Regions from separate parts of the Homo sapiens genome. Here region 1 is linked to region 2. The links come from fine-mapping of genetic effects on gene expression. Tissue or cell type: thyroid. Region 2 holds a variant in brackets; the other region holds the start of a gene. All regions are shown on one strand. Distances are between the middles of the regions.

Evidence for each region. PIP is the estimated chance that this variant, and not a neighbour inherited with it, causes the effect.
Region 1: it holds the start of NUB1, and the variant in region 2 is fine-mapped to the expression of NUB1 in thyroid (GTEx, PIP 0.94).

Annotation. Positions count from the first base shown.
Region 1 is chr7:151,340,486-151,343,241 of GRCh38, reverse strand. NUB1 (negative regulator of ubiquitin like proteins 1) reads right to left here and starts at 1,430. Exons shown (of 15, transcript NM_001243351.2): 1 at 1,396-1,430. RefSeq lists silencers at 1,161-1,340, 1,511-1,710 and an enhancer at 1,308-1,809.
Region 2 is chr7:151,376,186-151,378,941 of GRCh38, reverse strand. NUB1 (negative regulator of ubiquitin like proteins 1) reads right to left here. Exons shown (of 15, transcript NM_001243351.2): 14 at 2,131-2,308; 15 at 493-1,895. The coding sequence ends at 1,717. It also overlaps a transcript of WDR86 not described here. Among named protein-coding and RNA genes, the nearest start is that of WDR86-AS1, 32 kb to the left of the region's middle. The variant C/G (reference allele first, on the strand shown) is at 1,139.

The sequences.
Region 1 (2,756 bases), 36 kb after region 2:
CTGGGTGGCCCATGGGAGAATCCTCCATTTTTCAAGCACTGACAAACGGCTTATCACAGCAAAGCATATTAGTACTTAGAGCGTTAGCTTTTCAAACACAAATAACTTTAAAAACTACTTTACATACTACTCATGAATCTTCAGAAATTCTGAATAAAATATCACAGCAACCCTACTGTCTCCCCACTGGGGGACAGTAATTTCACAGGCTGGTTACTGGAGCCAAGCAATTTGAAAGGCTGATGCGGTACTCAGAGATGCCATCCAAGGCCGGGCGCGGTGGCTCACACCTGTAATCCCAGCACTTGGGAGGCCGAGGCCAGTGGATCACCTGAGGTCAGGAGTTCAAGACCAGCCTGGTCAACATGGTGAAACCCCGTCTCTACTAAAAAAATAAACAAATAAAAAATTTTTAAAAAGATGCCATCCAAGCCACCACTTGACAGAAGGACGAAGGAGTGTTACAAACCCAGTGCGTGTCAGACACTCCAGGGAGCAAACAAGAGCTCCAGGGTTACACCGAATAAGATTTAATGTTAAAAAAAAATTAAACCACTGTCTTGAAACTTAAGGAACTTCAGTTATAGACAACAGAGTAAGTGGCGACATATTTTAAGTCAAGTTTAATAAGTCAGTTTTTAATTTTAACTGAAATGAGAACTGAAAAAGTTTCATGCATGCCATACAATGTTTCACATTGTAACTAAGAAAAGACGAAACTCATTAATATCACTCCGTGGTCCAAGCAGAAAGTGAAACGTTATAACGATCCTTTAAAAATTTCACTTTCACTTTTGTAATGAATCGATCATTGCTACATTTAGCCACACCTTTTCAAGTATACATTATATATAGTTGAAACACAACTATATCTAGTCAAGACACATTCATTTTTTCTTAGGAAAATGAAAGATTCTTGATTAAAAATAAAAGGGAAGGAGGTGAGAATGATAGAATCAGGTCGTCAAGGTTCGAGAAAATCAAGTGTCTTGTCATTAAATAGCAAAGAAAATCTGGCTTTGATTGCAAATAAATCCCAAATGGTATACTCGGAGTGTTACGATTCAAGTATAGCATTTGGCTAATTTTTTATAGACATATTTATTCCTTTCTCTCCCCAAACCGATACACTCAATATTTTCTTTTAAATACCCCACACCTCTGCCTAACTCAGGGCAAACCAAAGGGCCCCGAACGGCCAGCGCGTCCCGAAGCCCGGCCCACCGCTCCCGGCCCCGGCCCCGGCCCCGGCCCAGCTCCACGCATGGCTGCTCACCCCCGCCCCGCGGCCGCTCCACCCCTGGCCAGGAGAGGTGCCCAGTCGGACCGGGAACCGGGGCGCCAAGCAGTGCTGCTGAGGCTGGGGTCGAGGACACTCGGCCGCCGTGTCCTCACCTGCGCCACGCCACTCCCGCCGCGACCAGCAGAGTGCCCGGATGCGGCAGCGGCCGCCGTTTGTTTTCATTCCGGGTGAGGCCAGCCCCGCCCCCGCCGCCGCTGTCGCCTTCGCGCCGCCGCCGCCGCCGCCGCTTGGAAAGAGGGTTGTGGGCGGGGCCAAGGCGAAGCCAGCTGTGGGCGGGGATACGGTTGTGTGGGCGTGGTTACCGCGGGGCGGAGCCGCGACGGGGCGGAGCTAAGCGGAGGCGGGGCTGGGCGAGGATGTGGCCGTGTGGGGCGAGGACCTGGGAGTTGGTGTCCAACGCCACCCCAGGCTCAGTCTTCCAGGACTTCCCGCCCGGGCTCAGTTTGCCAGCCATCAAGAGGAAATGGATCCTGGCTTTGTTTCTCCAGAATCCTTGAAAGAGGCTGGGGGAAGGGTCGGGACCGTCCCAACCCGCATCTCATTCCTCAGCCTAGGCTGGACCCCTTCCCTAAACCAGCGGCTTTTCACCCCGCCCTCCACAAGCCCACCAGGGGCTTCCCTGGGGTGAAATTAGGCTGCTTCCCGGGAATTTCCTCCCCCATGCTGTCCACGGCCACTAGGGACCACAAGGCCTAGGGAGCTCTGCCTACTTCCAAGGTCCTATTCCCAAGGCTGTGCTCAACAGTGACGCTTCTATTTTATTATCAGTTATTGCTGTTAATCTCTTACTGTGCCTAATAAATTAAACTTTATCGTAGGTATGTACGTATGTATAGGAAAAATGAAGTGTGTGTATATATATAGTATATATATATGTGTGTGTATGTAAAATGGGGTGCAGTACTATCCGAGGTTTCAGGCATCCACTGTGGGTCTTGGGACACACCACCTGTGTGTGGACGAGAGGGGACTCCTGTAACCTTGCAGTGACCAATCCGTTTTTCGTTCCCTGTTGCTGCTTTCTTTAGCCCTTTTCTACCTATAAAGCCCACCTCCTCTGCCCAGCTCGTTGGAGCACCGTTTCTAAATTTTCAGAGAAGATGCCATCCTGATTCATGAATCAATAAAAACCAATAGATCTTTAATCTAAATTTGTGGTAATTTTGACTTCTGACAAAGGGATATTAATAACTGTATAACCGCACCAGACCAATCTGATTCGCCTTTTATATACCCAAGTTGTGAGTTGTTTTTCAGTTGCATGGACTCCCAGATGGAAGGTTTCGCACGTAACCTGAGGATGCCCAGGTGAACCAAGCATGCAACCAGGGGCGGAACCTGAGTGCTCAGATCAAAGCAGGGACTGAATTAAGAAATGGGCACTGCATGGTGAGATCCAGAATGCAATCAGATCAAGCCCTGGTGTCACCCCATGGCAGGGTCCAGTCAGATG
Region 2 (2,756 bases):
CCAGAACTGCCTCCACAGCCGGCTTCCTCTGCGGCTCTCTCTTCACAAGACACGGAAGAGTTTTGGGGCCTGCTGGTGTGGCATTGCTTCTATGATGGCTAAAAACAGCTGGGAAGCTAGAAGACACGCCTGAACCAAGCGCAGGACAGCGATTTGTTAGCCAAAAGCTTAAATTCAGGCCCCAAATCCAAGTGTGGCATTGTGTCAAATGAGGCTGAGACTCCGCGTCACCTCAGCTCACCAGGCACTTCTGAGGCAAACCCTGACAGGTACATTTCAGTCCCCTGCCCAGGATGCACCCCAGCCCCGCTTGGCGTGCGGCATCTTTCACAGCAGATGCCCTCTGCTTCTGAGATCATCCTTCCATCATCTCCTCACAAAACTCAGTGGAAACAGACATCCTGCAATCAAAATGAAGAGCTAGTCACCCAGACACTTTCAACACCTACAGCTGGGGAGGCTGAGTAAATTAATGCAAAATTAGGGTGACAATTTTTGAATATATTTCCCACCTTTTATTTCCATCGGTATCATCCGTTTAAAAAGAATGACAAGAAGATTCCCATCAGTCCAAACTGGACCACCCACACTTTGAAAAAGTTGGAGCATTTCAGCCGGCTCCGCATGATCCATCCTGTCTTCAGTCAGTGCCTTCTGGAAGGGAGGGAAAGTCTTGGATGCACCTGGCACTCAATCCACTCGGCACCTGGCTGCTGCTGTGGTCCTGGGGCTGGAAGGAACTCCCACTGGGCACACATCTACAGAGGAGTGCGTGGCGCAGTGAGGACGGTTACTGCTGGAGCCGACACACAGCGAACTACATACTTTTAGAAAGAGCCTCTGTCACATGGCTAGAACAACAACAACAACAAAGAAAACCCACAAAAAACCTGGAGAAAATATATCTAAATCTCTGATAGGTCTCTTAGCTAGCAGTGAGTTCAGTATGACAGCACAGAGTCTAAAAATATTAATTAAAAATAAATTGCTTTGGTTAGCATTTAAACCTTTCCCATTCAATAGAAGATTTCTGTAATGAGGAATGCTGAATATATATAAAGCCTGACACTCAATCTTGAATTTCGGGGGCGTATTTTACTGAACTAAGAGCATAAAACACTGGCGTCCCAGGCTGAAG[C/G]CATTTGCTGCGACCTGGTGTGGCCCCCAAGGCCAGCGCCTCATCGTTATGCCCCACAGCACTTGGAAGGAAGACTTAAAGGACGATTTGAGGGGCGGGGAAAGGGTGGCACAGGAACCCATGTGGCACCCTGGCAGAGATGGCAGCGTGGGAAGCAGGAAGGTCAGGGCAGTGGGTGCAGGAGGCAGGCAAGCTGGGCAGATGGAGCCACAGCTGGAGAGGAAGCGGTCGGGACACCCTTCCCAGGACCCTGCCCTGGACACCTTCCCCAGGACCCCTGTTCTACAGGACCCCTGTTCCTTCCTGTTTCGGGGTAAAACACCAAGCTGGGGAAGGGGTTAGGGACGCAGACCTGGGAGGCAGATGGAACGGCCTGCGCCAGGCCAGAGGAAGCTTCTTCCCCGAGACCACGCATGAAGGCCCTGGGACCCCTCCTGGACTTGTCCCCTGCCCACCCCCTCCTACACCCAAAGAGGACTTGTAATTCAGATAAAAAGTAAGAACAGAAAGAGCTGCATTAGCCTTTTCATAATGATAGCATTTATAAGCAGAAAATTAGCGCTATTTCTGTTCATTATTTAGTTTTTCTTTGTTGCTGACTTCCTATTTTCTACATAGGATAGGTACTCTGCAATAATAATTTCTTCATCTTCCAGAGTTGAGTCAAGATAGTCTTCCTCATGCTCTGGAATGTCTTCCAGTATCTCATTGACGGCCTCTGTCTCCATGTCTTCGTCTGTTGAGGCACTAGAGGTTCCTACAATAAAATACCGCAGGAGTAAGTGAATTATGTGAGGATTGTCCTGGGGACACTGCACGACCACAGTCAACCTCAGACTGTGCCTCTTGCTGGCCACACTGTCCAGGTGGCCGGCCCGGTGACGTCAGGGGACGCCCCCTCAGTCTCCACATCTGCCGTGGCTTAGGGCCACATCTGTTGGCTTCTGAAGACACTTTGCTCTCAATGCGGCCCTCAAAGACCTCAGACCTACCTGCGGAGTCAGAAGGGGACGTGGCTGGCGGGGACAAAGAGTCTTCTGGCGACAGCGGCAGCTCGGGAGGCAGGCTTCCTCCGTTGTGAGCAAGGGTCTGGGCGGCCAGCTGGACGTTGCCTCTGAACACTCTCAGCGCAGCTTCGGCCACGAGTGCATCAAAACCCATGTACACCAACTAGGGGAGAGCGCAGGGGTCACAGCATCAGCCCCTGGCGCCTCTTCTGCCACCCCCGTCAGCCATACGAGTGGACAGCCGACTCTCATGTTTAAGAGCTCCCGGCGTGTGCACCATGGCCCTTTGTGCACAAGTCATGCTTCTGTGCAATGTGAGCGTAGAGCAACCTGGAAGGGGGCTTGGAAGACTCAAGTCGGGTGCGTCAGGGAGCAGCCATCTCAGGACAGGCAGTGACCTCGGGCTGAGAGCAGGGCGCCACACCAGCCTCACCACGAGCACCGCGAGGTCAGTGGCCACAGCATACAGGCGTGCTAACGCGTGTAGGGGCACAAATGTGGACAGAGCCGTCACTTGGGATACAAAGCTGGATGGGTTTCCCAGGTCACAGTGCCATCCTTTTAGGTCACAGGCAGAGAAATGAGGCTGATGCAAACAGTGGTGCATAGAC